Linked DNA regions of Homo sapiens. The protein of the gene in region 1 purifies or fractionates together with the protein of each later gene. This does not show direct contact. Each region holds a gene or a part of one and is shown on either strand. Other genes may lie near its edges.

Region 1 (8,442 bases):
AAAGGAATTTAAATAAATTCCTGTTATTATTCCTATTTATTATTTAAAAGTTCCTATCTATCCTATTCCTATTTAACATATTATTTATTATATATAGGATTATCCTATATATTCCATTCCTATTTATCCTATTTCTATTTATCCTATTCCTATTTATTCTATTATTTAGTTCCTATTTATCCTATTATTTAAAAGTTCCTACTTATTTATTTAAAAGTTCCTATTTATATGATAGAAATATAGAAAATATGTTTTGATAAGCATGACATTCTAAGGCTATAGCAATTTGGGAGTCTGCATGTCTGTCCTGTTTTCTTGATACCATAGCATCTAAGATCTTTGCAAAGTTGAACTCCTCTTCTGTTGATGCCTAATGACTATTCTTTCCAAACAGTTAATGAATGGATTCTGATGCTTCAAATGGATTCAGGCTCACCAAGGTGCTAATCCACAAATCAGACACCTGTGATTTAATAAATACTGAAAATATTCACACCTGAAATGAAAGCTAAGCTCTCCATGCTTGGGCCAGTACACATCCTTTACATTCTAGTCATGCTAGAAATCTCTTACGCTGGCAGAAAACTGTGACACTTAGAAAAATATGACACCACATAAGACCACATTTAGCTAGCTGGACACAATAAAAGAGACCAATAAAACAGTCTTCTTGCAAACAAGTCTTTGGGTAGCAAACTATCTTACCAATTTTCTGTAGTGTCACAATTGTTCTAACTTCATAACCTAATTAGCAATAACATTTCATTTGGATCCTTCCAGGATGGGAAATTCTTACCTAGAGAACACTTCTTTTCCTGGTTCTGGGCTTGCCGAATATAAAGCACTATTTTCTGCACTTATCTAAACCATGGGGTAGCCATCAGCATCAACACCCTACAGGTTAATGGAGATACTTGAGAAGCTTGCTTTCCACAGAAATAAAGATCTCTATACAAAGCTTTTTGGGAAAAGTGTGTAGGTGATACTTTTGGATCTCTAACAACCACACTAAAGGCAGAAGGAAATGACTAGCTTATAAAAACAAACTGAAACATTCAGAAAGTTGTCTAAAATGGGTCAGATCCATACATGAGAAACACTTTTATGATGTCTGCTAGTACCAGGGTAATTAAATCTCAAAGATACAGAGAAAATACAACAGGAAATAATGACTTCCATTAGAAGTTAGAGCCTTTTCCTATTTTAGATCTTCATTTCTCACCCCAACACACACCAACAATTAGACAGACATGAATTCTCCTGCAGTGGCTATGTCAGACTGCCAAACTGAAGATCTATGTATTTCTCTAGCAAAGGGATATCTGAACTCCAGTCCAGTTGCTTCACACTTTCCCTCACATATTTTTTGCAGCAGCAATTCAAGATTCTTGTTCCATATATAGGATTTGAATACTTCCTTATTATTTTTTACTTAAGCTTTTCTGTATGCAAGGTAGTAGTCACATCCATTTTATGACAGCTTATGTCCAGATATGATAGTCTTACAGGTTAAGTCTGTTAAACTTTACTTTCTGAAGAAATTGAAAAGTGAATATTGTCAAAAGTACCCAACATTAGATTAAGTATTATATGTACATAATTTTTTTAACACCAGAATCAATTTTTAAGATGTAAACTTTAAAAAAGACAGTTAAAACGTATAGCATAGAAAAATTTAAATGTTGATAAAAGCAGATATAGTTTCTAACATATTAGGTAAAAATTCTTTGTAGAAAAAGCATAAAAGAAATAATTCTGTCTGGTCAAGTGCATTAATTATTTACAAAGACACAGTAGTCAGTGTGATCTTTTAAAATGTCATCAATCAAATCTTAGTATTCCTTTGGTCAAAACCTTCATTTAAGTTTTCTATCACACTTAGAATAAAATCTTAAGGCTTTATCATGTCACCATGGCCAGGTTCTTTCTCACTTTCTGACCTCATTTCCTACAGCGTCTTCCATCACATACCTTCCCTCCAACATGCCATGCTTGTTCCTGCCTCAGGGGCTTTGTTATGGTGGTTGTCCCTCTTCTTGGAACATTTCTCCAGCATCTTACTGCCTTATTTTATGTGGGTGAAATGTTATATCCTCAGAGAATCCTTTAGTGCCTGCTCTGCTCTGCCACCATTGTCTGTCCCTAACCTGGCTACATTTTTCTTTATGGAACTTCCATTACTTGGAATCATATTTATTTGCATATTTATTTTTGTCTCATGTAAAAGTTTCACAAAGGTTAAGAACAATGCTGTCTTATTTACTGCTGTATCCCTAGAGTCCTGGCACACTACCACCATCGTAATTGCAAACATTTACAGAGTGCTTACTATGTGCCAGGCCCCGTTTTCAGCTTTCCTACTTCATTGTACAACAATCCTCAGAACAGTTTTAGGGGCCAAAAAAAAAAAAAAAAAAGAAGAAGAAGCAGCAAAAAAAAAGGAACACAGAGGTTAAGTAACTTACCCAAGATTTAACATAAGTGGTGCAGCTAGGATTTGAACCCACCAATCTGATTTCACAGCCTGAGCTCATAGTTACTACATTATTTTCATGCAAGCAAATTAATACAAAATACCCAGTAATTATGTCAATATGTGTATTAGTGAATAATTAGCTTTAAAGACAATTCAAGTAACATGAATGGCTTCTAAAGGATTCTCTGAGGAAATTATATTTTAATCATCTCCTGATGTTCTCTGCCATATTTAGATATTTTAGTCCAATAATAAAGGTTAGAAATTTTCCTAAATGTTCAGATTTCAAGAAATCAACACACTAAAAATTTATATTCTAAGCACAAAGTGTAAGTACATTAAGTCACCAATACATTTTCAAGTCAGAGCCATTCACTTAGAAGGAAGAGAGGCCTTCTAACAACTGAAGATTATACCTGTGCAAATTGTCATAGCAGAGCTCACAGCTATGCATCAGTGCATATAATAAAGTCAACTGGCCGGGTGCAGTGGCTCATGCCTGTAATCCCAGCACTTTGGGAGGCTGAGGCAGGTGGATCACCTGAGGTCAGGAGTTCGAGACCAGCCTGGCCAATACAGCAAAACCCTGTCTCTACTAAAAATACAAAAACTAGCCAGGTGTGGTGGAGCGTGCCTGTAATCCCAGCTACTTGGGAGGCTGAGGCAGGAGAATCGCTTGAACCTGGCAGGTGGAGGTTGCAGTGAGCCAAAATGGCACCATTGCACTCCAGCCTGGGCAACAAGAGCAAAACTCCGTCTCAAAAAATAATAATAATAATAAATAAATACATAAATAAACTCAATACTCCCTCTAAAGGCTCATAAGTTACAAAATGAATCTCTTTGTAATCTTCAACTTTATAACTTTCTGAATTTTAAGTGAACCTGAATTTCCTAAAAGCAAATTAGACAGTATAATGAATAAGCCCAAGACACATGTGCAAGATGGATTTTCCTTCAAATCTGCAATAGAATTGCAACTAAAGCCTTAAATTGAAATCATACCTGCTGAATGGGACTCTGTGCCTGAAACAATATTCTTCGTCCTAGTAGTTCTGCAAAGATACATCCCACAGACCAGATGTCAATAGCATTGCTGTAATGACGGCTGCCCATCAGGATTTCTGGAGCCCGATAATACTGAGTAACAACTTCCTGAGTCATATGACGGGATTCATCTAATTCTTCCACTCTGGCCAATCCAAAATCACAAATCTAGACAGAAAAGGCAATCAAAACATTATCAAGCAAATACAAATGAAAGAGTAAAACAAAACATCAAAATTTTGATAGGGCACTGAACTTTGAAACTTTTTTTTTTTTTTTTGAGATGGAGTCTCACTCTGTCACCCAGGCTGGAGTGCAGTGGCACAATCTCAGCTCACTGCAACCTCTGCTTCCTGGGTTCAAGGGATTCTTCTGCCTCAGCCTCCCGAATAGCTGGGACTACAGGTGCCTACCACCACGCCTGGCTAATTTTTTTTTTTTTTTGTATTATTTAGTAGAGAAGGGGTTTCACCATATTGGCCAGGCTGGTCTCAAACTCCTGACCTCAGGTGATCCATCTGCCTTGGCCTCCCAAAGTGCTGGGATTACAGGTGTGAGCCACTGCGCCCGGCCACTCTGGAACATTTTTAATGATATAGGTATAGTATATTTATGTCAATATACAATCTGGTTTTATTTGGTTAAGAGAGGAAAAAAGTCTCAAACTTACATCATTTTCTTAAAAATATTCTTCTCATCTTTATCAATAAAAACATGTCTGTTTTCAGTTGATAATCGAAGCAAAAAAAACTAGGTGAACGTAAACGACTTTATTTATTTTTTTAGACAGGGTCTCACTCTGTCTCCCTGGCTGGAGTGCAGTGGCGTGATCGATCTGAGGCTCCTCCCACCTCAGTCTCCTGAGTAGCTGGGACTACAGGCATGTGCTACCACACCTGGCTAATTTTTGTGGGTTTTTTTTTTTTTTTGTAGGGATGAGGTTTTGCCATGTTGCCCAGGCTGGTCTTGAACTCCTGGGTTCAAGCAATCTGCTTGCCTTGGCCTCCCAAAGTGCTGGGATAACAGGCGTGAGCTACTGCACCTGGCCAAATGCATACTTGTAGGTTTGATTTAGAGACCAACTGTTGGCCAGGCACAGTGGCTCATGCCCGTAATCCCAGGGATTGAGAGGACTGCTTGAGAGATCAGGAGTTTAAGACCAGGCTGGACAACATAACAAGATCTCAACTCTACAAACAATTAAAAAAAAAAAAAGCTGGGCGTGGTGGTGTGCACCTGTAGTCCCGGCTACTCTGGAGGCTGAGGTGGGAGGACTGCTTGAGCCCAGGAGTTTGAGGCTACAGTGAGCTATTACTGTGCCACTGCACTCCAGCCTGGGAGACAGAGTGAGATTGAGACCCTATCTTTAAAAAAAATTTAAAAACCCCCACAAAACCAATTACTTTCAAGACTAGTTTAGAGAGGAAGATATCATAAGATAAAGGGGTGTATCTTGAAGGTCTCCTTAGCTGAGACTGTGTCTGTCGTCTTTATGAAATATATGTGAATTTCTTTAAAGCAATGGGTTTCAAACTGACTCCAGTTGAATCTACTTCTGACTTTAGGCATTCCATGAATATTATATCCAAACTTCACATGTACCTATCTATTTAAAATACAAATTCATACTCAAATGTATAAATATGTTAAAATGCAGTATATGGTAGAATACTAATGCTATGGGGTTCATTCATTTCTTCATGCCATAAATATTTAAGTTAGTACTTGTTATATTACAGACTGTATGTTAGAATCTGGAGATACAGCAATAAATAATAAAGACAGGTTAACTTCTATACAAACTTAGAAATAAATCTTTTCTTGCTATTTCTGCTCAACTGAAAAGTATGCTGAGGGTTACAAGGTGAGCTATTAATAAACAGCAGCCGTGCCACCACCAGCAACTACTACTTATCTTTAGGAATTAAAATTTTCTTGATATTGGGCAATCAAAACACAACTAGGAGCACTGAGGATGAGATCAGATAGTAATGGCCATCTAAGCTCCAGTGTTCTCACTGATTAACTTTACAAGTCACAATATTGCAAGTGATAAAATATGATTTTAAATCTGTTTTCTAAATTGAAGTCCCCAAATAAGATTTTATTTGAAAAAGAGTTCCGGCAGCTTAAAAAGAAAATCTGAAAACCCCGTTCTAAAGAAAACAAAATTTATCCCCCAATTTTTGGCAATCCCCTCTTTCTGATTTGAATCTACTATGTCTGGTTACATCAAATGAATTCAGATGTGTATGTGGGAATGAATCAGTATGAAGCCACCATCTTTACAACTTAAGAAAGCAGGAAAATTTTCCATACTATACAGATAAACCATATAACATAACAACAAAAGCCCGAGTTCATCAAATATGTTCAAATAACATATATATATATATATTTTTTGAGACAGTCTCACTCTGTCACCCAGACTGAAGTGCACTGACATGATGTCGGCTCACTGCAACGTCTGCCTCTCAGGTTCAAGTGATTCTCGTGTCTCTGCCTCCTGAGCAGCTGGGACTAGTGGCATGCGCCACCACGCCTGGCTAATTTTTGTATTTTTAGTAGAGACAGGGTTTTGCCATGTTGGCCAGGCTGGTCTCAAGTTCCTGGCCTCAAGTGATCTGCCCACCTCAGCCTCCCAGTGCTGGGATTACAGGCGTGAGCCACTGCGCCCGGCCAAAATAACATATAATATTTTAAAAACTCTATTACTTGGCCATGACTCTTGAGGATATTTTTAAAAACCAAACCAACAAAAGGAAAGAACATAATTTTTTTCTCATATTTATATGAGAAAAACCAACCAACCACCCATCCAACAAAAAAAGGCCTTCTGTTATAAAGCAAATCCCTTATTAAAAACATCAGTATGATTTCGTCATTTTTAGCAACTTATTTGGAAGACAACCTGAGTCCAAAATAGGAAGCTTACATGATCAGATAACTAAAAAAATTCCAGCAAAATTATCCATCTTGTGCTTAATAGGAAACAAAATACATTCACGATATGGAAGGATACTGATTTTTAAAAAATGTTTTGTTATAATGATCTTCAATGAATTTGTATGTTTGAGAAGAAAGAACTAGTGTCTATAGCCTAGACTCTATTCTGGCTTTTTAAAAGTAGGCCCATAAGATGAGTCAAAGGAGTGGAGCAAAATTTGTTTGTTCTGATTTGTGTGTTGTGTATTCACAAATGGCATTTTCCTTTAGTTGCCCATTCATACAGTCCAAGGTTATAAAACCATAACGGACAATTTGGAAAATGAACTTCAAGCAGTTAATGGCATCAAACATGACAGGTCCTGCACAAAATCCTGTGTGAAGTCTTCCAATCAAAAACCAAAATAAGAAGAAATTGGCTTAAACTGTCGTAAGATTGATTAGGTATGAATAGGACAAAAAAATTTCTAACTATAAGGTTTAAATTTTTTTTTTAATTAAAAAACGATTATGGGGATAGGTTGCAAGTTCTCTTTAAAAAGTGAAAAGGTGGCAGGAAAAACTCAATAACCTATAGAAGGAATACTTTAGTAGATTTTGGTGGCAATTAACTTCTCTGTGGAAACAAAAGACTGAATTACAACATCAGCTATTTTTAGGGAAAATATGAAAAATAGGTTTTCATCTTTCTTGAGTTAAAATAAGGGTGAGGGTTCTTCAAGGCTATAATGAAGGGAGAATTTTCATTCATAAGCAGTATAATCCACCAGCTTTTCAAGAGAACTGACCTACAGTTCAGAGAAATCATTTAAAATAAAAAATGAATTTTATTTATACACTTGGTTTTATTACTTAGTTTAACCGCCAGCAACCTAAGTAATAATGATAGTCTTGATTACTTTTAAAGTGGGTAACATTTTAAAAATTTATTTTTCTTTTCAAATATAGCAGTTAAAGGCCCTTATTTCCAATTTCTATTATGAGGAAAAATATAGTGGACCTCTCTCTATTCAAGAGTTCTGCCAATACACATCTGTATTAGAGGTAGGGAAATACAAATATGTGGACTTTGCTATTTGCAAGCCCCTTTTTAAATGAAAGACAATGGCTGTACTAGGGAAGAGAAGTAAAACTGAAACTGATGACTTGAAATTTTGGAACTACTAAATATAATTCTGTAATCAATTCCTCTTCAGAGGAATAATTAAGAATTGGCTACTATACATTATGGAAATACATTGGATAGATGCATATTACCCTTTTCTGGTTTGGCATTTTCACTTTTTTTTTTTTTTTTTTTGAGACAGGGTCTCACTCTGTCACCTAGGTGGAAGTGCAGTGGTGTGATCACAGCTCACTGCAGCCTTCACGCTCTGGGCTCAGGTGATCCTCCCATCTCAGCCTTCTGAGTAGCTGGAACTACAGGCATGTGCAACCACACCTAGCTAATTTTTGAATTTTTTATTGAGATGGGGTTTTGCTGCATTGCCCAGGCTGGTCTTGAACTCCTGGGCTCAAGCAATCTGCCCGCCTCAGCCTCCCAAAATGCTGGAATTACAGGCATGAGCCACCGTGTCTGGCCAGCACTATCCCTTTTAAATATGTTTCTACTTCTTACTTTGCTACCTTGGTCAAACAGCATATAGATATGTTAGCTGTGTAAAAATGTAAATGGTCTTCCTAAAAGTCACACTTCATTCTCTTATATAAACAGATGCTTGCTGTTCTAATATTTCTTCTGATATGCACTTCTTTTAATAATGGAACAAGCTGTAAAGGAGTCACCTTGTCTATTCTTCTTTCTAGTTACACTACAATTCCAATTTCAGTGTTTCTAAAACATAGGCCAAATATCATGAAAAGAACATGAGGCAGGACTACAAATTATTACCATGGCTATGAGTAGTGATATGGAGAAAACTGGGTTAACTTTTGGTAAAGTAATGGAAATGAACTTCTTTCTTTCACAAAAA
Region 2 (6,666 bases), on another chromosome or scaffold:
CCCCTCGATACTGCAACAGCCAATCTCAAATAAGCCTTTTACAACTAAACCTGTCCACCTGTGGACTAAACCAGATGTGGCCGATTGGCTGGAAAGTCTAAACTTGGGTGAACATAAAGAGGCCTTCATGGACAATGAGATCGATGGCAGTCACTTACCAAACCTGCAGAAGGAGGACCTCATCGATCTTGGGGTAACTCGAGTCGGGCACAGAATGAACATAGAAAGGGCTTTGAAACAGCTGCTGGACAGATAAGGACGGCTGCTCTCCACCTCGCAGACTGCTCTTGTTATAAGTAGAGATGGGCTCGTGCTGAAACATCTGAATGCCAAGCGAAGTCTGTGAGCATCAACCCCACTCCATGGGTTTGTCTCCTGGTACCCAAAGAAATACTGAGTTGTGTCCACAACATGGCTGGGTCTTCAGACCCCTGGCTCACCATGTGGGTGTCTTGGGCAGTTTCTATCACACATGGGACAAGGGGAGGGAGTTTTTCTAACATGGAAAAAGATTCTCAGCCTGCCGCCCAGCATGCAGGTGGCCTCGCTTTGCCGGGTCCGAGAGGCTCCCCGTCAATTTTGCACGGGATCCTAGCTCTTGTAGGCAGACACCAGTGCACTCTAGATACCTCCTGAGACCTCCGTCCTCTGCTTTCCGGGCAGCTCTCACCACCCCAGGCCCCGGCATGAGGCCTTTCCTCAGTCCTGTGGCCTCTCAGAGGACACCTGATGCTCACCTGCCCCTCTTTCTCCTGCACTTGGCTTGCAGTGAGATGCTCCCAGATGCATTTGTCCAGTGCCCCATCATGGGCCTGAAAGGCAGAGAAACTTTTTCCTACACAGATTCTTTTCCCCATCTCCTCCTGTGGTTTGCATCCATGGCTCTTTGGCCATGAGGTTCCTGGCAGTGCTGGGAGTTTGGATGGGATCGTGCCCAGCTTTGCTTAGCTTTCTTTATTTCTGCAAATCTGTTAGCATAATTCCAAGGTGGCCAAGCAGATGTCACATGGAGTTAGTCAAAGCACAAAGTCACGATTCCACAATGGAGGGGAGACCTGGCCAAGGGAGCCAGCCAGCGTGCAACTGCCCAAGCTCCAGGTCTCCAGGACAAGAGCAGTTGTCTGCCATGAGCACCCATCCAGGATGGAGAATAAGGGCTTCTCTGCCTCTCAGAATTCTTTTTAATTGAAGATGTCTTGAGCTCTGCAAAGATCAGAGCAGGTGAGCATCCACTTTGACATGAAGGACAAGAAGACGCATGGCTCATGGCGGGCACATGCGGCTGCCAGTGAGACAGCGTCTCCTCTGGGAGCTGGGCGGGCACAGCATCCTCAGTTCTGTGCCCAGCCAAGGGTGAGCATCTCTGCTGAGACAGTCCTTTTGCTCTCGGAGGCCAGGGAAGATGGTACTTAGAGGCTTTTCCCCTATCGCTCTGGGTGTCTAGGAATCCCACCAGCTTGTCTTAACAGTACAACAGCTTCTTTGAGGACCCAGTGGGTATGGAGTATAGACAGAACCCAGGGTTGAGAACAGAAGGTGGGCGGCAGGATCAGAGTGAAAGCAGAGGCGTGAGGAGAGGAAAGCAGGGAGGTCTCCTGGGCTGCCAGGTCAGCCTCTCTGGCAAGGCTTTCTTGAGCCCCGCCCCTTTCTTTCCCCGGAGTCCCTCCACCCCATAACAATACCTCGAATTTCCAAAAGAGGTCACCAGATGCACATGGGCCGCAAAACACACAGTCAGGCTTCCAGCACATTCTCCCCCATTTGGAGGATACTCGAATGTCAGGTTTTTGGTTTTATTATTATTTCAGAACTAGCTCAGCCCATCTCTAATTATAAAACATGGTTTTGTTTTTTTTTTTTCCTTTTTTTCTTGATTAGGTCTGGAACAGCTCTAGAATGAACACATAAAATTTAGCAATTTAAAATCTTTCTTTACTGCAAGTTTAAATAGTTGTACAGATAGTTTATAAGCACAATATTTTAAGAAAAAAAAGTGGCTGGTCTACTAGGCAGCCTTTGTGCCACTTCAGTGCTAGAAAGTTAAAGAAAAAAAAACTTTTGTGATTTAATAATACTATTTCTGTGGAATAATTATAAAAGTATGACCTTTTTAAATCAACCTTATTTGGATGCATCTGAACCAGCAGAGCTGTGTTATATTTTCTATCTTTGCTAGAACTTCGTCATTGAAGGACAATTTCTTCAAAGTGGTTACAATTCATAATGCAGCAGTTTCTCCAAAAACAAAAACAAAACACACACCACACACACGCGCTTTTCCAGTCACACACCCCTGATGTTGGAACCAAGTTTTTGGACCTTCTGTTCCAAAACCTTTTGCAGGTCAATCTTTGTATTTGAAATGATCCAATCCAACTTGAAGTCAATTGAATATTAAGGCGCTTTACTTCCGTGTGCTTTCAGTTTTTCCATCATGAGATGAATGAGCATTACTCTAGATAAATTTCAAGACAGGATACTACAGGTGGCCTGCTGAGGCTGCCCCATATTTTAGAAAATGTAAAAATGGTGGTTTGGCCATTAATTTGTCTTCCATTTGATGATACCGCAAAATTCCGTGAGTCCATTCCTTTGGCATGGCACTTTCCCTGGGCCTACAGTTGGTATTACCTCTGTGCTCAGTGCCAGGCAAAACACTAGCTCAAAGGAGAGTCAAGGAAACCGCTGGCAGACGATAACCAGTCGAAACTCGTGACTTCGGTTTGTTGAACTTTGGCAGCCAGTTGGTGAGGGCCAGATGTTATTCCCTTTCTTAAAGATACTCCAAGCCACATGCCACTAACCACAAGCAAGCTGGCTGCAAGACTAAAGAGCTGATAACATAGTTTATTTTTACACTGTCTTATTATAGAGAAGTAATAGACCTATCAGAACCTGCACTGACCAACAAATAAACACATGTTGCCAAGATGAATCGGTCTCTATCTCTATCTGCTTATTTTGGTACTGAAAGCAATAGTTCCTCATTCAAATCACCACCCACTGTTCTCCCCCTTTGGGACATGTTAGGACGAGGCCCTATTCCATGCCCCTCTTTAATGGTGGAACAAATGTTAAACTGCTCATCTAAAGATCATGTTGATATTATTCCAGGTTTTAAGATCAACTTTTGTTACATACTGTAATTTAAATAAACTGCATTTACATGCCTAGTTTCTGTAATATTGTGTATACAAAACCCAAATCTCTCAAAATGTAAATTATGTATACCTGCCAAGATACCTTTTCCAGGGTGTCTGCGCACATTTTAAGTTAATTCACATAATATAAAAATTACTCAATGTGACTGTTGATTTGCTGAACTTTACATATCACAAAGTGAATTATTTGTGATACTTTAGTTAATAAAATGGTAAATTTTTTTCTCAGTTATTGAACAAGCAAGCATTATCCAGTTGATCTGGCAATGACTTTTTGTGTGTGGGCCACAATATTGATTTTCCCATTAACAATTTTTTTTTGTTTTTTAAATACTAATATGTTTCACACTATAGTTTGTGTAACAACACGTGTTCGCATTATCTATGTTGCTGTTACTTTTGTGCTTTTATTCTTTTTAGACTTTATAAAAAAAAAAAAAAGCTCCTGTAATTTGCACTTTCTCCCAATCCTTAAATCTCTTGTATGGCAACCAAAATTACTGTAAAAAAATAAATATACTATTGCACTAAGGTTGTGGTTCTGATTGCAAACAAACAGTGAACACTGTCTGAATTAAACAAAAAGCTGCCCGACTTGCAATCTAATGTAGATTATCTCAGGCATTGTGGCCAGCTCTGCCTCTCTAAAACTGACCAGAAAAATCTCTCTCATCGAGTAAACAGGCTCCTGTCACTGAGCTAATCTGCCTTGGTTCCATTTCCTTATTCTCAATTTATCAATGGATACGTGCATGTTATTTCAGAATTATGCAAAACGTCAAAATCTGCTTCTGTGACCGCTGCTATAGGCGTGGAGCTGAGGCTCGGCTTTTCCTTTTGTTCTGGGTGGAAGCAGCGGTGCCGCGGAGGGCCAGCCAGATCCGGACCCTTCCCTTAGGGTCCAGTCTCCCCACACCCCAGCAGGGTGTCTTCTAGCCATAAGGCCAAGGGAGTGGCAGAACTGGGCCGCCTCTCTGGTTGACAAGCAAACCACATGCTAAGGCTTGGAGCAAGAGAGAATTTGTGTCTATTGGCAAAGAACTAAGCCAGGAAGACATGGGCCATCCCTCCGCTTTAGGGAAGCATATTTTAAACCTAAACGTTGAACTTCTTCTTTGGCCTCACCAGTGAAAACTTGTTGTCTTTAGTTCCTAAAGTTTCTTCTACTTTGGCACATTCCCCAGTTGAGCAGCAGCCTCTATGCTTCCACGTTCAGGAAAAATTCCAGTCCTCATATCTTTTGTAGTTCACCCTCAAGCTCTCCCGCTTCACCATCCAATAGTTTCTCCCAAACCTTGGCACCCCCCTAGACTTTGCTTCCAATGGTTTCTTCCAGACCACTTTTCCTAGATGAATATATTCGTTTACCTTACTAGGAAAATTATTGGAAGATTTTTTCTTTTACTTGAAATTGGAGGCATTTTAATAACTGGCGAACTGGAATGTGTTTCTGTATTTGTAGACAACCATGAACCCATGCAAGTAGGTGAACATTCCACAGTGGCTGGGTGACCACAGCAGCTGCATGCAGACAGGACTGCCCGTGCTTTGTGGGGAATCAGAGAATTTCCAAACTTGTTTCTCAGACTTCCGCAGATCTCATCACTTTGATTTCTAATCCATGCTGTATTGGTGATTTTGTTTATCGTTCCTGTAACTTGTTCTACATTCCACAGTCTTTACCGTTTTATGTTCAAAATTACAACAATCCCTGTCCATTGATTCCACTCTGGAACTCTTTGTTCATGCCAATTTTGAAATTTTAATACGAGCCTTCAAATAAACACAGAAAAGAAAAAAAAAAAGGAAAAAAAATAAAGTGTGTGCCTTGGGTGTTTTGAACCTGATCTGCATAAAACCATATTGTATTCAAATGCTGTATCTTTCATGAAAGGATAAATATATCTTCAATGTATTAATGTAGCTGATAAAATAGTTATAGTGCCTTGTTTTCTGAACTGAGAAGCCCATATCAATGCACAACGTAAAGAAAGGACGGTTCGAGCTATGAAATGTTGAGGACACCTACACGTGATTCTGGAGCCTTTCTCATCATAAGACTGTGGAAAATACACAGTCGTTTAAGTTAAAAATAAAAAGTAAATTGAAATAAGATTGTGTTATCAATTAATTTTCCATTAAAAGTGCTCTCTACTGTATCATTTTCAGTATTTTCATTTAATTAAAATACAAAATGTGTTTGAGGATTTTCATGGAAAGGAGAAAAGTTTAACCACAGGAGCCCTGGGCTCTCTGACCTACTCCCCTTGTGCTGTGCCGCCCCCCGGTGGTACTCATTGGTAATGCTTAACGAAGCCATCAATATCAATCATTTCGACGTTTTGTTATAAATATACACAAATTCATTTTTAGTGATTGAGGCCACTCATTGCAGGAAAACTGTTTCCATTTTTCACAAGTGAAAGTGGCAACATGTGTGTTTTTCTTTCGACAAAAAAACGATGTGAGAAGTACATCAGTGTAATTCTTGTCTCAATGCTGTCATGCTCCATTTGCTTTAAGTGCGAAGCTTCCCTGAGCAGCCTCTGCCTTTCTAGAGGATGAGCCTGCGGTGTAGTGAGCATATTAGGGCTGCCATCTGCCTGTGGGACCAGAATAGCCACAGCAATAGTGAGCGTTTGTGGGATTCCGGACAGATGGGAGCGGCAGCAGCCCCATCTTCTCGGGGGCCCCCCCGCAAACAGGCCGCAGAAGTTCTGGAGGCAGAGCACTGCCACAGGCTGTCCTGCCACACACATCTCTCCAGGGAGTGAGGAGCTACTCAGATCCAGAACTCCCCACTGTGCCTGCTCAGCTCACAGACTATTATCGGTGTGGCTATTTACCAGCCAGAAGAGTCCACTGGAATTCAGACTGTGTAGTTTCAGGCAACAATGCAGCCAATAATCCAAGAACCTGCAGGGTGCTCAGGGAGATGTGGCCAAAGCTTCTTGGTCACCCTGCTCCACATGTGCTGCTACCTCCGCTCCAAGTATGAAGCATGTGTCTGAGAGCCAGAGGAGGGGCCCTGGCACTGCTCACAGCCACTGGGTAAGACCTGGCAGCCAGGCCCTAGGCCCCCATGAGGTAGGGACCACGGAAATGGCCCAGTTCACAGGACAGAGTGTGGAGACCCCTCACCAGCCACCTGCATCTGGGGGCCGGCCCCTCTGACGCGGTGCTCCTGGAAGGCAAGCCATCCTGCCATTGCCCAACTGTAGTCATCTCTGCCCAAGATGACTGCAAAAACAGAATTAAGCGTGTTCTCCAAACCCCAGAACCCGGGGAGTGGGAAAAACACATAGCCCCTGCAGCCCTGCAGAGGTGGCCACAAGCACAAGCATTCTGTGTGTATACCCAAGAGGCGGTACAGGTTGGAAACAGCACTCAGTCTACCTAGTGCTATCTGGGACGGGCACCGTTCAGATCACTGCACCCACCACGTGGCTAAAAGCCCTGTGAGGTAACAACTAAAGCCCTATTTCCCAGATGAGGAAACTAAGTC
Region 3 (8,442 bases), on another chromosome or scaffold:
GTACCCCGCCCCTTTCTCCAGGGCTCTTGCGCCGGGAGCTGGCCGTGGTGCTGACAGGCCCAGGAATGGCCACCTACCCCCAGACCCCAGCTGTGTGTCCCAGTAGGACACTTCCTGAGGCCCACCCTGCCCCAACTCCCTAGGACAGCCTCTTGCCCATCCTTTGTTCAGGAGACGTTTTCCTGAGGGCCCTGTGCTCAGGCACTGCTGTAGCACCGTGAACCCATAGAGGAAGGATCAAGGAGAGCCACATGGGACTCCAGTCATTTGACGATTCATCAAACATTTATTATGTACCTTGTATGTCTTGGAGAAGCCCTCAGGAACCCGGACTCCAATTGAAGGTCGAGTTGAGTTTTAAGGGGTAGAGAGCCAGAAAGGGCTTTTGAGCAGTCCTTCTGCTCAAAAGTCCTTCCTGGCTCTTGGGATTGCATGGGCCAAAGCCTGCAAGTGTGCAGGTGAGAGTCTTGTGCAGAGGGAAGCCCACCTCAGGACTCTGGCTGCCAGCCAGAATTGGTGATTGTCACTTTACTTTTTGGTCTCCCCTTTGGCTCAGAACTGCCAGCATCTCTGGCTCTAGTGCCCAGCCCAGAACCAGGCACAATGGAGGGGTGTTGGAGCCAGGCAGGGGACTGGCATCTTTGTCCTAGAAACCAAAGAGCCAGGTATGCTCTGTGACAAGATTTGCAGCATTTTAGAGAGCCCCTGGCCTGCTGGGGTGGGGACAGATACAGTGGTAATTCTGGCAGAAGATGAGGCCTCCTATTCAAGGGGACAGTACCTCCCCAGCCCCCAACCTTAAAAAAAAAAAAAAAAGGTAAAAATCCCCTTCTGGTGCTGAGGCCCAAATGGCAGTGGGAAATAATCACTTTTCACAGGCCCCTTATCCACAGCCAAGCCCTGTGCCAGTTTAATCAGCAGTGCCGGTGTGACTTGAAGAATCCCCGGCTTGAGAGATCAGGAGAGGGGTTAAAGAAAATTACCCTCGCCTCCTCCATGCTAATGTAATCTCTAACCAGATCTGCCTAGCCGCAGCTCAAATTGCTTTTTAGATTAACATTTAATTATTAACAGGGTCCCTTGGAAGGCCTCCGGCTCAGAACAGAGATGGGGGAGGGAGCGGCAGGAGGGAGGTGGGGATGGGCTTCTACTCTGGCTGCCTTGCTGAGACAAGCGGGGTGGGAGAGAGAGGAAGGAGCAAGGGAAGAGGGGTCAGGAAGGGAGAAAGAGAGAGAGACAGCAGGAAGGAGAAGGGAGGCATCAGGACAGGAGGCAGGTGGAGCTAAGGACAGGGATGTAGACAGAGGAGAGGAAAGAGACAGACAGTGGATCTTCCTGTCGTGGGAGCCCCTAAGGGGGTTGGGGGAAGCTTGCACCTAGATTCCTGAGGACATTCCTGGGCTGGGCAAGGGTCCCTCCACTCTTCCTGGCCAGAAGCAGGTTTGCTGCCCCTCATTATTTAGAGAGGTCTGGACTTTCTGAGGCTTTCTACTTGCTCAGCTCGTGGTGCTGGGGACCAACACAGAGAAGTGACCCATTTAGGGCCACACCACCAGGGTCTGACCCTAGTATTCCCAATCCAGCATTCATTCTCTTCCCCGGGCCCTGGGCCTCTCACCACCATTTCAGGCTCCTATCTGCCTTTGGAGCAGGCTGTGTGGCCAGGCAGCGTGAAGAGACTTGAATTACAGCCAGAGGGATGGAGGTGAGAACTGTGGGAGGGCTCCCTCACCACCCACCTATCCTGCCACCACCCCCAGGAAGGCTGCGAGGCCCTGAGGAGTGGCCAGCATCTCATTCACTTCCTGAAAGGGAATTCAGAGTCTGAACCATCTACTCTACTCCTTGCATGATGAACTGCTGGGTTTTGCCAGCTTCCTATCTTGTCCCTGCTCGAGATTCTAAGTCCCTCAAAGACAATGGCTACGTCTAGAGCCCCTTTGTGTGCCCACAGTTCAGGGACTGCCCCACACCTTGTACACAGCTGGATTAAGTTTGGAAACCAAATGATCACATCCTCTTATGTCCAAGTTAGATGGCCCTCATACTATCAGCTGGTCCACTCCCCATAAAGGTTCATTTGGGAAACAGACTCAGAGAGGTGCTGTGACTTCCTCCAGGTCACCCAGCCAGTGAGAACCCCAGTGCCTGGCCCCTGCCTGGCAGGTACAACCCAGAGGCCTCTGGGGCCAGCTCTCTTCTCTGAACTAGTCCTGTTGGACACCAGGAAGGGCCTGGCATGACCTTCCCCTCCAGGTCACAGCTAGGCTTTGGCCTTGAATGGAGCCACAGAAGCCAGGTGGGTAGCTCTAGGGATTGGAGGTAGAGGAGGAGATGGGGGCTCAGAGGCGCAGCCCATGGCTTTCCCGGGGTCACAATCTCAGGGCCCTGCCGTGAAGCCAGGTGTGTCCTCCTCCTATTCTGCCTTGGGGTCAACCCAGCCTGGCAAGGGGCAGACTGCTGACCTGTGGACACGAGGGAAAGTTCCAGATGCCTGCCACATCAGGAAAATGCTGGAGGCAGAGAGAGGTCAGGAACATTCATTTTTATTGGGAGGTCAGTTCTGGCTAGATGTTCCTTTCTGGCAGGACACTTTGAGTCATTTCCGTCCTCCCAGTACATGGCACAGGGCTGGCCCTCAAAAGATGCTTGGGAAGTGTTTGCTGCCTAAATGAATGAATGGGTGGGTAAGAAGCAAGGCCTGGGCTTTACTCATCTCAGTGTTGTTCTGCCCAATGCTGGCCTCCTGATTTGCGCTCCTTGAATGTTTATGGGATGAATAAGTGGCCTCTGGGAGCCCTTCCCCTCCTCTCACCCCTTCCTTCTGTGATCCCAGCCCCTCCCACAGTAGAATCAAAATGGATTTGGGCCCTGGGGAGAAGCAGACCCTTGCTTCCATCCCTCCCTGCCCAGTTGACTGGGAGCTGAGGGCTGACGGGCCCCCAACCACGATGGAGCTGCTGTACAGTGTGGGGCTGAGGGACTGACTGGCATTGGCATCCTTGGGCTCTGCTATCTAAAAGCTATGTGACCTTGCACAGATGGCCTTCCCTCTTTGTGGCCATTTCCTAAGCTGTGAAATGGAGCCACAGAGGCCACGAGGAGGAGGCGCATGGGCTTGGTACAGAGGGCAGTCAATACATGCTCACCACCGTTAAGAGCCCAAATTGCATGTTGCTCTTTCAGAGCTTCCCCTCCCACTGGCCCGTGGGCTCCCTGACGCCCCCTGCAGCCAGACAGGCGAGGGCGAGATGACAAAAGGCAAGCAGGGCCCAAGCCCCCAAATCCCTGTTCTTTTCATAAAAACAGAGACAGCCTCCTCCCATTCATTGTTCTGCTAAGGCGAGCATCACAGACTCAATTCCTCCTCGGACCTGAAAAGTTCCTTCCTTCCTTTCCCCTCCCCTGTCACATTTCCTTTATCTAAATCCTCAGCTATGAAAGGACACATCGACAGCTGGGGGCGTTATCTGGTGGAGGGGACCTTTTCCTCGGGTGTCTCCGAGATAAGGCGTCTTATCAGCCCCCATGTCAGGGAAGGTGCCAAGCATTCTAATCATTGAGGCATGCGACGTTTTTCCCCTCCCTGCCCCCCCTTTTTTTATTAAAGTCACAAAAGACCTTGAGCTTATAAACAGTCTGATTTGCAGATAGGGTTTCAAAATGAACAGTGCTCCCTGGATGGTGCTTGGCCAGGGGGGTAATGAGTCCAGGCGGGGACTCTGAGAGGCTGGCCTCCTGCAGATGGGATGATGCCAGGCAGGGAGGGGGCAAGATGGGGTCACAGAAAGAACATGAGTGTTTTAGGCACATGCCCCAGTCCTGTCCCTGCCTTGCTGTGTGACCTTGTTTGGGACGCTTGGCTTCTCTGGGCCTAGATCACTTTATCTGACAATAACCAATTCATTGATTCGGCCATTCATTCAACACCTATCTAGTAAATGATTACTCTTGCCAGGCACTGGGGAGAGACAGACAAATAAGACACGGTCCCTACCCCTAAGAAACACAGTCCAGCGGAGGGAGAGAGATGTGAAAATTGGCAATTACACCTTGGTGTGATTAGAGCAGAGATGGTGGATATCTAGAGGAAGGGAAGGGTGAGCCAGGGTCTGAAGACAGATCTGAGTTCGAACGGATCAGGGTCACGGTGCCGTAGGCAGGAGAACCAGCAGGGGCAGAGGTCTGGAGGTGTGAGGCAGCCTGGCTGGAAGGAGGGCCAGGGGGAGCCAAGAGGGAGATGAGGTGTGGTGGGCAAAGAGGGCTGGGCTCCACGCCGGGGCCAGAGAGGTTTTAAGGCCAAGGAGGGGGATTTGACCGTCTTGGTTGCAGATGATGGGGATGATGCAGGAGTTGGAGGTGGTGGTCCCCTCCCCACTTCCCTCCTAGGACACCCCACCACCCTGCCATGTGCCCCCAGTGGCAGGACACAGGGTTCCTGGGAGAATGGGCAGTGAGTTGGGAGAACTGGGGTTGCAGAGAGAAAAAAGTCCCTCCTCTTTAAGTGAAGAGCATCTCTCAGGCTGCCTGTAGCCCTCCAGAAGCAAGGAATGGGAGGATGTAGGCAGCTGCCCTGGCAAAGCTGAGCCAAAGCTGAGGCCTACACTTGGACACCATCACACCCTGAAAACCCCTCCCAGCTCCCAGAACTGCCTGGCATCCACCATAAGAGCACGCTGACAACTAGAGCCCTGCTGGGAAGGGAGCTGATGGGGTCCCAGGAGGCTCCAGAATAGGCGACCTGCCCCTTCCCCAACAATTGCAGCCCCCAGCCCACCCTTTTTCAACTGCAAAGCATGTGGGATGTATGGCCCAAGGGACATTAGGGCACCTAGAGAAGGGCTGGACTTCTGGACCCCAGTAAAAGGCTGGAGATAGGGCCGGGCATGGCCAGGACTCTGGAAGAAAGTGACCTGGAGGTACCCACAGGGATCATGGAGCCACTGTTACAGGCCAGAGAGGGTCATTAACCCAGCCGGGGTCACACAGGGTGTGCTGGGAGGCAAGGAGGTTCCAGCCTTCCAGCCCAGGTTTCCACAGGGCACCAGCCTCTGACCTCCCTCCTTACTGGCCTGGGTGCAGCCAAGCTCAGTGGTGAGGGGGTAAGTGCACCCAGCCACTCCCTGCCTGGCAGGCCACTGCTCCCTGTGGCTTGGGTTTCCCATTTGTGGAGGGAGAGGTCTTGGACTGGCTTTCTCCGGATCTCCCTCCTTTCCCCCAACCCCTATGTCAGAGCGGCTAGAGATGGACTCTGCCCTGGAGCAGGGGCCACAGAAAGAGGCTGGGGCAGGGTGAGGGAGGTTGCCACAGGCCTCTTACCTTCCAGATTGCACATGATTGTGAGTCTCCATAGACCATCCGACTGTGCGTAAGAGGGTGCCTGTAAGTGCAGAGGAACATGCCATGCAGCAAACACATATGTACATAGGTGAGTGTGTACCAGGGTGTGTGTGCACACCCAGCCCTCCCTGTGCACATGCACGGCGTGTCCTCCAGGGCTGGTGTCCAAGGCTGTGGTGATGGCAGGCCCGAGTCAGGCCTGCTCCCGCCACCTGCTCACATTCCAAGTCCCCGAGGAGAGGAGCAGCACTGCCTTCCTGCAGTCAAGGACTTTCATCCCTGCAATAAGCCCCACTTCATTCCCTTTTTAAACTGTATAATTTCTGCCTGATTGTAATGGCCTATTTTAAAATTACCAGAAATCAAAGCCGGGAAGTGGATACTGCAGCTTTTATTGCGTCTCTGTGTTAAGGCTGGCGATTGGGGAGGGGGCGGTGAGAATCACCTCCCCTCCCCTCCATCCTCCACTCTCTCTCTCTCTCGCTCTTTTTTTTTTTTTCTTGAGACAGTAATAGGAGAAAATTGGTTTTGAAACTGAATAAAAGTCCCTTTCAGAGGAAATCATTTCTTTCAGGGTACCTTTGCTGAAAGTAAAATAGGGCATAATGAAAGGTGGTTACGCGATTGTCTTTCATTTACCGAGAGGCCAGGACAGACGGGAGGCTGCAACCGTCTCCGGGAAATACAAGATTGGAATAATTGCGCCGTAACAAGGAGCTTGTTGTGAAATTAGTATCTTAAGAAAGTAGTGAAAAAAGGCTTTTCCTCATGAATACTTCATTATTAGAAGAAAGCGGCAGAATTTAGGACTCCAGACACCTGTTTAGTATTAAATAACTTCCCTTTCTTCCCCTTCAACACCCCCTCTGCTTTCTTCTTCTTTTTTAAAACCAACATGAAGATTGAGGTGATCCAGCTTGGCTGCTCAGGACTGTGGGAGGTCAGGAAGTGGTGGGGACAGGGTGCCCGGGAAGATGGACATCAGGGGTGTCCGGGGTTGAGCTCACCCTGAGACCTGCCTTCTCCTTAGCAAGAAGGGAGGAAGGGACCTCTAGGTAAGCTCCCACCGCCACCCTCCCATTGGGGCCTCACAGGCAGGCCCACTCTGACCCTGCCAGTCAGGGGCTTTGGGCTCTCAGGAATGTGCCTGGGCCTCCTGAAACGTTCTCTGCAGGAGAGTGGGTTTGGGGAAGCTGAAGGCAAGTGTCTGTGTGAATGTCAGGCTCTGGCCGTTGGGGAAGGTACCACACGGGCCTGTGTGCAGCCACATCTGAGCTGCTGCCCTGCGGGGCACAGATCTCTGCCCTTCCCATTCAGGGTAAGGAGCTCAGGCAGCGACAGGGATCTCGGGTCAGGGCAGCCTTGATGGCCCATTGGGGCTGGGCTCAGGGTGCAGCATGGATCAAGGTTCAAGAGCCCCTTGTTCTCTCAGGAAAGCCATCCTGACATCTCCCCTCCAGGGGGGCTATGAGGATGCCCTGGGCGGGAGACAGACCAGTACTTCAGTAACCTGGGACACCCATGTACCCACTGGCATTTCCCGAGCACCCCTCTGTGTAGATGCCCAAGATGACCAAGTGGGGTCTTCAGGCTGACTTGCTTACAGGGGGCCACCACCGGCCGGAAGCACAGCCTGCTGCGGGGCACGGAGGGAGTGAGGATCTCACCCAGTTGGGGGCATCAGGGCAGGCCCCAGAGCAGATGACCCAGATGCCGAGCAGGGCCGGGGCATGTGTGATCCATCAGTCCAGCCCCCACTCAAGAGCCCTGGATTCTGTCCCTTCCCATGAGGCCACAGATGGGCCTCTTGATGCCTCAGGCCTTGGTCCCCTCATTGGTCGAATAAGGGAAATGGGTGTCTGCTTTGAGAGTCTCTGATGTTCTTCGGGGTTGCAGGGAGACTCCCGGGGGGAATGGTGGGAGGCGAACACGGAGCAGCCCCCAAGTGACAGAGCACCCCATCTTCCTCCTGCAGGGACCCAGTCGCAGAGCGCACCCCACTGGGGACCCCCAGCTCAGCCATGCTGGCCTGTCTGCAGAGGACCCAGAACGCCCCGGGCCAACACCTGGCCTGCCCGAGCAAGAGCCTGGAGCTGCGCAAGTGTGAGTAGGACGCCTCCCCAGCCTTTGCAGGGCAGGTCGTGGGCAGAGAACGCCATTCACCCCCCAGGATGTCCACCTACCATGGCCCTGTCGGAAAGTCTCTATGCTCTCTTAGGCCCCCAGGCCTTGGCCCCGGCTGTGCTGCCTTCCTGGTCTCCATCCCCAAAATGACACCCACTCCTTTGGCCAGCTCCTGTGGAGCAAGACTCTCAACTCTGGCTTGACCTCCTTCCCAGCAGCCTCTTCTGACCACCACCATCGCCATGCCCCAACCCCGCCTCTGCAACTTCACCACCATTATCTAGCCATGTGTGTCTCCCTTACCACCATTAAAGTAGGATGACGTGGAAGCAAAAAATAGACAGAATGGGGTCCCCGCTTGAGGCCCATGAGCTGTGTGGTCTTGGGTGTTTCCTTCCCTCTCTGGCCTTGCTTTTTCACTGGGACCTAGACCTGGTGACCAGGGGTCTGTTCTCACTATCTAGGACCAGGATCTGAAACGCTCTGATTTGGTTATTTTTAGCTATCATAATTTCTTTTTTAATGAAGTACTTAGAAACGGAGATTTGCATTAAAATATGGATTTCTACTATCTCTTGAAAAAAACAAAAACAGAGGCTCTGGTAACATAGGCCTGTGTGCCTGTATTGCAGCTATGGTTAGAGCTGAATGACTGCCTCTTTTAAAGGGATGTCTGTCTCCAGGTCACCGCGGTCCCCACCCCTCCCTATTGCTTCTGTGCTATAGCCCAGGATCCGTTGCCATTTAGCATGATGCTTACAATGTGAAAATATTTTTTTTCTTTTAAATATTTATCTTTAGACAAGGGAACATATTCATGTTATGCAACACTTGGAGGAAGGAAGGGGTATATAGACAAAAGCCTCCCTCTGGGCCAGCCACCCGCTTCCCTCGCAGAGGGGGTCCATGTCGTCAGCTTCCTGGGTGTCCTTCCAGATGTTTTATGTGCATCCCAGCAAATATGTATGGAGACGCATA
Region 4 (8,442 bases), 590 kb from region 1:
TCCATGTTGGTCAGGCCGGTCTTGAACTCCCGACCTCAGGTGATCCGCCTGCCTCGGCCTCCCAAAGTGCTGGGATTACAGGCGTGAGCCACTGTACCCGGACTACACACCCAACTTTTTACAATTTTTGAAGACACAGGGTCTCACCCCTGGGCACAAGCAATCCACTTCAGCCACCCAGAGCTAGGATTACAGGCATGAGCCACCGCACCCAGCCAGAATCAACTTTTCCTTCCATTACATCTTAGCTCAAACCCAAGCTCAACAGAAGAGGAGGGTAACTTAATTCATTTTTTTTTTTTTTTTCCTGAGACGGGAGTCTCACTGTCGCCCAGGCTGGAGTGCAGTGGCATAATCTCGGCTCACTGCAACCTCCGCCTCCCAGGTTCAAGCGATTCTCCTGTCTCACCCTCCTGAGTAGCTGGAATTACAGGCGCGTGGTACCACGCCCAGCTAATTTTTGTATTGTTAGTAGAGACTGGGTTTCCCCGTGTTTGTCAGGTTGGTCTTGAACTCCTGACCTCAGATGATCCACCTGCTTTGGCCTCCCAAAGTGCTGGGATTACAGGCATGAGCCACTGTGCCTGGCTGCAATCACTTAGTGTTTTTTTTTTTTCCTCTGCAGACAAAAAAATAAAGTTATCCAAAATTCAACATAAGAAAACTGTAATCACCAAGAGGAGCCAGTTACATTGCAGATAACAGTGCCTATCACCTTCACCTCTGTCAGAGGCCCTCAGAATTTCCAAAGTGTTGGAAGTGGAAGAAGGCAGGTTTGAAGTTTTAGGTTGGGTTATTAGCAAACCAGATCCCCATTTCTTGGCTGGGCATGGTGGTTCACGCCTGTAATCTCAGCACTTTGGGAGGCCGAGGCAGGTGTATCACTTGAGGTCGGGAGTTCGAGACCAGCCTGGCCAACATGGTGAAACCCCATCTCTACTAATAATACAAAAAATTAGCTGAGCGTGGTGGCAGGCACCTGTAATCCCAGCTACTCAGGAGGCTGAGACAGGAGAATCCTTTGAACCTGGGAAGTGGAGGTTGCAGTGAGCCGAGATCGTGCCACTGGACTCCAGCCTGGGCGACAGAGCAAGACTTCGCCTCAAACAAAACAAAACAACCAGATCGCCATTTCTCAATGACTTATGGCCCTTGGAATGCAAGTGGCAGGACCTTTTGGGCCTCCAGTGAGGGACAGCAAACCACACTTATCCTCAAACTTCACAGTAAGCCCACAGCAGCCCTGCCCAGGGAGAGGGCCTGTCAGCCGGGTACCCTGTGTCCAGGGTTTCATTGAAGAACTGTCTACAATCACCATAGCACCTGGCCTTAAATAATGGATTTGGAGACGGCTTCTGGGTGGGATGCATATTACAGGGGTACCCCTTTTAAAAATTAGGAATTACTCCTATGAAGTGAGGTATGTTAGAAACTGTTAAGAAAAAGTTACCTCAAACATTCACAGCACTAAACGAATAGAACAAGGTCAGAAAGCGAGGTTTTCTTATTTTTACTGGTTTATAATAATCTTAAAAACCCCATCACACCCATAAACCACCACAGGTGAGGTGAGAGAGATGGAGAATGAATGCTACAGTATGTGGATAGAATGGGGAATCCAGGTATTCCCTAGGGTAGTGTAGGATGGAGACAGGGAGTGTGGAGAGGAGGCCCTGGCTTGGACCCTTATTGCTGGCTGGGGGTTGGCTGGCAGAGGGGAGAGGGACTCAGGCTGAACTCCGAAAGAAGGAACATCTCACACCAAAGGCGAGGGCAGTTGGGGGCAGGGGGATCACAGTACATTTTCCATGCAGACTAAGGGTGGGAGTGAGAGCTTCAGAGGCTTGCACCCCTACACAGGAAGAGATGGGTTTGAGGTTGTTTGACTTAAAGCCCCCAAGTTGGTGTCTGGTCCAGTTTCCTAAAATAGCAGCTCACCTTTCAGGGAGAGGTATTGGGGAGGAAAAAAAAATACAGCAAGAATATCTGCTTTGGAGATCAAGCAAGGGGTAGGGGGAAGACAGTGGTGCTCTTTAAATCTGACTCAGAAAAGCAGGAACTGGAAGAGGGCCCTGGGTGAGATGGCGGCCAACACCTTCGGAGAAGGCATTGAGTCAGAAGCTACAGGTGCTCCTGGGGGATCAGGACAGGGAGGTACCAGTGTTCACAGACGGCAGGAAAACAATTGGGAACAATAAATTAGGACTTCATGTTGCTATCATTTGGCATAACACAATCAGGCTTTTTTTTTTTTCTTTTTCCTTTTAAATATAAGGCAACTTGCCAACACATAACTTAAAACTGGTCTTCAGTCACATTGCTTCAGATCACTAGAGAATTTCTGGCTAACGAACAGTAGTGGATAGTGAACAAAATGCAAAACCTTAAATAAGAACCATCAGCTGACATTCCCCAGAGACAAGAGGAAAGGTAAGGGCTTATTTCATCTGTAAAAAATAAAAAAGCCCAATTCTGCATCTTTAACAGAATGGTGCAAAAATTTGTAACAAAACAGTCTAAGTTTAAAATTACAGAAAAGTGTTTCTAGCCAACTAATTGTCGCTTGGGATGAGACGTGCTGAGCATGGAGTGGATGAAGGTATGCTCTAAGAATGGACAGAGGGCAGGAGGGGCTTGTTTCCAATGTAGGCCCAGCTCCAGGTGTTAGAACCATGCTCATTTGGTAAAGGAAGTACTCAAAGAGCTTAAGGCTTTGTGTTTGTTTTTTTTTCCTTCATTAAACTGAGGGGCTGCACTAGAGGGTGAATGTACCTGTGGGGCCACTCACACACAATGCTACTCAAACCCACACTACATTCATACAGAAACGTAACGTTTAAAACTTACAGTGTAGAGCAATATTCTTAGCCAGTGTAGAGAGAACCAAATGCATTTTTTTTTTTTTGGTGTTTTTAATCCCAAACTCCAATGTGATCATTCCTTACCTACCTAATTCCTCAAGTAAGGTAGATTTTGTTTTTGTTGAGGGGGAAAGGATAGGGGCTGTGGGGAGGTGAGTTAGGGGACAGGCAACAGTGAGAAAGGGATCTTGGGTATGCTCAAAGGTCACTGTATTTTTCTAGGTTTGGAAAGGGGAGTCTGGAACCAAGATGCCAATACAAAGACTTTTTCCCCCCATATCTCAAGAAATGGTCAAATACTTCCAAGATGCCCTTGAGATCAAGTGTGGCAAGGGCAAGTGCAGTGGCTGTGGGATCAATATAGACACAAAACAAAGCCTTGAGGAATGGAAAGGAACTTGAAGGATATGAAGACTGGGTCAGCTTTGATTTGAGATCCTTCGATGAGTAAGTAATTAGCTTTCAGAGCACCTGGGAAATCTTGCTTCTTAGTCCTGGAGGGAGGGGAAGGGGGGTAGCAACAGGTAGAGGTCTGGATTAGGGGCCTGAGCACCTATACTACCTCAACTAGGGCATTCCGTCAGCCCACACCTCAGTCGTCCTAAGGGAAACAGGAAGAGATTCAAGAAAAGATGGGTGGGAGCTGGCTGGAAATGGCCAAGGTGGAGAGACTAGCTGACAGGCAGTCAGTGGAGAGAAAAGCCTGGGCTTAGGGTTAGGTTCTAACATAAAACCAAAAGTTGCTGGAGGGGAGGACGAGAGGACCCCTTCTGTCCCCACTTAGATCCCACCAAATTCCCTTTCTTAGACATCTAAGAATGATCACACTGGAGCAGTGAAACTTTGAAACTATCCAGTTACTTAAAAGACTAAACCTAGGAGGGTGATGTATGATGTGTTGCACGTGGAGGGCAGCAGGGCTACCTATCTATACCCTGGGTGCTGAATATGAAGACTTCGACTCTCTGTGGGATCGGGGGCTCGGTTGCCAGGGGCTCGGTGGGCCTTGCTCAGCATGGCCAGGCTCTGTTCTCGGAAGCAGGCCTGTTGGAAATCCCCACTTAGGTAATCCACTGTTTGCATCAAGCTGTTCTGGCTTGCCACTGGACCGCCCCCGGTCCCTGCTCGGTAGTGGGCCCCGGGAGCTGCCGCACAGTCGAGGGGTGCACCTGTGGGCTGCCCACCGTGGAACGGCATGGCAAGGTCCTGAGACCCCGAGCTGTCGCTATTGGGAGTGGGCAGAATGTTGTTCCACAGGGGTTGGAAGTAGTGACCATTGGGGTAGGCCAATGGGGCTGCCATGCCGTTGACTGGTGGGGATGGGGTCGGCTTTTCCAGGGGTGGCTTCAGATGGAAGGACTGCGCCAGGCAGAGTTCCTGCGGGTAGGCAGGGGCCTTGCCCACAAAGCCAGGCCCTGCCAACTCGCGTCCTGCCGCATGCTTGCCTGTCAGGCCAGGGGCTGGCGTCCCACTAGCCTCGCTGCACATCTGCTGTAGGTGGGCCAGCTGGTGCTGGTTCCAGGTGACTGGCTTGAGGTCGCTAGGGTAGCCAGTGGGGACGCGAGAGATGCCTGTGGGCAGGTTGACAGGACCTGCAGCAGGCAACGCGGCGGTGGCCGCGTGGGTGTGCTCCATGGGATTGACCACACATGAAGGCATTGGTGTGGGGACGCTGTGGGTCGACACCCGGGTGCTTGCATTGATGAGCAGACTGCGACTAATGGGGCTGGGGTTGGCGATCTGGCCCTCACACACTGAGGTAGTGCTGATGCCTGCCCTCGTCTGGCAAAACTGGTTGATCTGGTGCACGATGCTACTCAGGTCCGGAGGCTGGCTGTGCTGCAGAGTGGCCGCCATTGAAAGGGGGATAGTTGAGGTAGACACGGTCACATTCGGGGGGGCATCTGAGTCTGGCATCTTCCGGCCTCCATGCAGCAAGGGATTGTGGGGGTGCTGGAGACCCTGGTGAGCCAGGGCCTGAGGGTGGACCAAGCCCTGGGTTTGGGCCATGGGCTGAGGGTGGCCCAGGCCCTGAGGCTGCTGGAGGCTCTGAGGGTGGGACAGTGCCTGGGGTGGCGGGATACCCTGAGGGTGCTGCAGCGTCTGGGGAGGGGCATGGGCCAGGGTCTGTGCATGCTGCAGGGCCTGCTGGCGGGCCAGAGCCTGGGCCTGGGGGTGGGCTAAAGTGCTGGGTGCCACAGTAGCATAGGGTGCCACTGGGGGGTTCATGATGGCCTCAGGGAGCAACCGGGCTCGGGTGCCGTCAAAGTCCTTGAGTATGCTTTTGGCTGGCACTTTGACAATGGCAAGCAGGCCTGCCTTGGTGGCAGCCTGTGTCGGGTAGGGGCTGTAGCGCTGGGCTGATGTGTCGAGGCCGTTCACAGTACGACGAACGTGTTTCCGCTGGGGAACCTTCACACTGTTGGGGAAGATTTTTATAGTCAGTGGGTTGTTTGCGACCTTCTTAGCATACGCATCCAATTCGGCTGGGGTAGGATAGTGAGCAGTTCTCATTTTCTGTGTAGTGTCCCCTAGAGAGAGAGAATGGGAAGGAGAGCAAAGAGGGAGAGGGAGCTCATCAGTGCCAAGGCAAACAGCCCTTCCAGATTCCCCTTTTGAGGGCCTGGGGTGGGGTGGGGAAATGACTAGATTGTCATCTGTAGCCTTCATTCGAGACCCAGCTTCAGTCTTCACATTAACAAGCACTGCTAATGTTCAGTAAGTGCTTATAGTGGGCCAGGCCTTCTGCCAGATGACAGGCCATCTCAATGAATCCTCACTATTGCTGTAGAAGCAGGCACTATCATCATTTACATTTTATAAATGAGGTAAGTAGAGATCAGAACAGCAAAGCATCTTTCAAAGTCTCATATCTTGCAGAACCAGAATTTGGCCAATTCTCAGAGAGGTAACCGAGAGTTCTCCCCCTACACAGAAATTCAGGGTCGCTGGGCACGGTGGCTCACACTTGTAAATCCCAGCATTTTGGGAGGCCAAGGTGGGTGGATCATCTGAGGTCAGGAGTTCAAGACCAGCCTGGGCAACATGGCGAAACCCCGTCTCTACTAAAAATACAAAAAGTTAGCCAGGCGTGATGGCAAGCACCTGTAATCCCAGCTACTTGGGAGGCTGAGGCAGGAGGATTAATTGCTTGAACCCAGGAGGCGGAGGTTGCAGTGAGCCGACATCGCACCACTGCACTCCAACCTGGGCGACAGAGCAAGACTCTGTCTCAGAAAAAGAAAAAAAAAAAAGAGAGAAATGCAGGGTCTGGAACTCTACCAGCCCATGTGGCTTGGGGGTAGGTTCTAAGCAAAGCTCCTTGTCAGGGCCATGGTGGCCCTTCAGTCTAGAGGGTACCCAGAGCTACGACTCTTCAGTCTGCAGGGACCAATGAGGGATCAGCTTTCCCTTGCATCTTGGCAGCTGGGGGGCTTTGCCCACTGGGTGGGCACCCTGAACAGTAGACAGAATGCTTCCTTTCAGGAGCAGAGGAATAAGCTGCCAACATCTCTCCCCTTCCCCATGTCACAAGTTCACTTTTGTTTACAGTTTACTCTATGCCCGACTGGATGAGGATCAAAGGCTTTATTTATTTGCTTGAGAAGGAAGATAATAATGACAGGGCAGCAGGGAGGGAATTGAGAAGAAAGGATTCAGAGCATCTTTCAGTCCTTTCAGTCCTGAGAGCCAAAAATAGTCTGTATTTGGTCCATGTCAGCTGTCATTTTCCAAAAAGAAAGAGGAAAAACCTGCCTGCCTTTGGAGACTGCGGAAATGCCCACTCGGTGTGCCTCATTAATGTTAACAGTCTCTTTGTTCCCATCTCCTGTTGCCTCCCATCAGGGGGCTCAGCGGATGTCCGGCTTCCAGTCAAAAAGGAAAAGGTTCTGAGAACAAGGGCTCTTTAAGGATGCCAACCTCCTGCAAGGGGGCTCTGCTCTACTCTCTCGTCTCTGAGGGAGGGTCTCCCCTGAGTATACACAAAAGGTGCCTAATAAATGCTTGCTGAATGAGTACACAGACTGCCCAAAGCAGAAGTGGCTTGGCAGGAAGCCCAGGCTCAGCTAGCCGACTCTCTCCTTACTTCCTCCTCTTGCAAAAGGCAGGAGGATAGGCCAACGACTAATCTGACTGAATGCCCAGCTTGTGGCCTCAGGTGGCCTTGGCCCAAAGGAGACTCTATTCAAAGTCACATCACTGGGCATCACCTAGAACAAAGGTAGGCTAATGAGCATATTAGAAGGAAAATGGGTACAGCTCTCTTTGTTTGGTGATAATGCTGGTTAGCAACTCCTGCTCTGGGAAGCAGGAAAAGAAAGCTCAAGTCAGGAGGGGCAGAGAGATTTGGGCCCATGCTCACAAGCAGATCTGGGCAAAAAGAGCCAGGCATCCCCACCTCCCAAAACAGGTCTGTGCTTTCAAATACTGGCAAAAAAGTCTGGGATCACTGATTGAGAGCAAGTCCCTAAACTCAAGACATCAGAATTCCAACAGAAGCTGCCTTGGTCAACCACTGTACCTATGTGTCTTATTGGTCATAATCTCATATAATACTCCTAGCACAGTGCTTTAAACCTAGCCCACCTCCATGCTGGTGGGCTTCTCTCCTTGAAATCCAAGTAGAAGTCGTATAGTACCTTGATGAGTAGAAGAGTCCCTTTGTTCCAAGTTAGTACCAACTCTGAGGTTTTTTTTAGCAGAGGCAAGGGGGAAGCTTGACCTCATTCAGGAGTATGGAAGGGGACACTTATCCACATTGATTAGTTTTCTTTGTCCTGCCTCCACTGATGCTGAAATGGTGAAGAGGGCTGTCAAAGGATTCAGAAATAAAGTGAAATGAGGGTAGGGAGGGTGGCCACAAGGCTACAGTAGCTTTGTTAAGGAAGAACCCCAAAGATGAGTACAGTATATTGAACAAAAAAGGGGTATCATTCTGGGAATACAGCACCATCTACCTCACATACCAGACTTAAGCCTAACTCTTAAAAAAAGTTTTCTGCTGGGCGCAGTGGCTCATGCCTGTAATCCTGGCACTTTGGGAGGCCGAGGCGGGTGGATCATGAGGTCAGGAGTTCAAGACCAGCCTGCCCAGCATGGTGAAACCCTGTCTCTACTAAAAATACAAAAAATTAGCCTGGGATGGTGGAGCGCACTTGTAGTCCCAGCTACTTGGGAGGCTGAGGCAGGAGAATTGCTTGAACCCGGCAGGTGGAGGTTGCAGTGAGCAAAGATTGCACCACTGCACTCCAGCCTGGGTGACAGAGCGAGACTCCATCTCAAAAAAAAAAAAAAAAAAAAAAGTTTTCTCAGCTGGGCATGGTGGCTCACGCCTGTAATCCCAGCACTTTGGGAGGCCGAGGTGGGTGGATCACGAGGTCAGGAGTTCAAGACCAGCCTGGCCAAGATGGAGAAACCCCGTCTCTACTAAAAAAATACAAAAAATTAGCCGGGCATGGTGGCAGGTGCCTGTAATCCCAGCTACTCGGGAGGCTGAGGCAAAGAATTGCTTAAACCCGGGAGGCAGGGTTGCAGTGAGCCAAGATCGCACCACTGCACTCCAACCTGGGTGACAGAGTAA

Evidence for each region.
Region 2: the proteins of NLK (region 1) and SHANK2 purify together in Homo sapiens (affinity purification with mass spectrometry; 2 studies listed by BioGRID and IntAct, with this or other methods). This does not show direct contact.
Region 3: the proteins of NLK (region 1) and FAM222A purify together in Homo sapiens (affinity purification with mass spectrometry; 3 studies listed by BioGRID and IntAct, with this or other methods). This does not show direct contact.
Region 4: the proteins of NLK (region 1) and FAM222B purify together in Homo sapiens (affinity purification with mass spectrometry; 2 studies listed by BioGRID and IntAct, with this or other methods). This does not show direct contact.

What each region holds. Positions count from the first base shown.
Region 1 is NC_000017.11:28,163,697-28,172,138, reverse strand, and holds part of NLK (serine/threonine-protein kinase NLK), read right to left. Parts: intron 3,692-8,442; coding exon 3,482-3,691; intron 1-3,481. UniProt on the Homo sapiens protein: Serine/threonine-protein kinase that regulates a number of transcription factors with key roles in cell fate determination. Positive effector of the non-canonical Wnt signaling pathway, acting downstream of WNT5A, MAP3K7/TAK1 and HIPK2.
Region 2 is NC_000011.10:70,466,459-70,473,124, reverse strand, and holds the end of SHANK2 (SH3 and multiple ankyrin repeat domains protein 2), read left to right. Parts: coding exon 1-256; 3' UTR 257-5,271; downstream 5,272-6,666. UniProt on the Homo sapiens protein: Seems to be an adapter protein in the postsynaptic density (PSD) of excitatory synapses that interconnects receptors of the postsynaptic membrane including NMDA-type and metabotropic glutamate receptors, and the actin-based cytoskeleton.
Region 3 is NC_000012.12:109,736,786-109,745,227, forward strand, and holds part of FAM222A (protein FAM222A), read left to right. Parts: intron 1-1,224; exon of another isoform or gene 1,225-1,705; intron 1,706-2,120; exon of another isoform or gene 2,121-5,428; intron 5,429-7,315; 5' UTR 7,316-7,361; coding exon 7,362-7,443; intron 7,444-8,442.
Region 4 is NC_000017.11:28,754,485-28,762,926, forward strand, and holds the end of FAM222B (protein FAM222B), read right to left. Parts: intron 7,673-8,442; exon of another isoform or gene 7,590-7,672; coding exon of another isoform or gene 7,502-7,589; intron 5,393-7,501; coding exon 3,786-5,392; 3' UTR 1,496-3,785; downstream 1-1,495.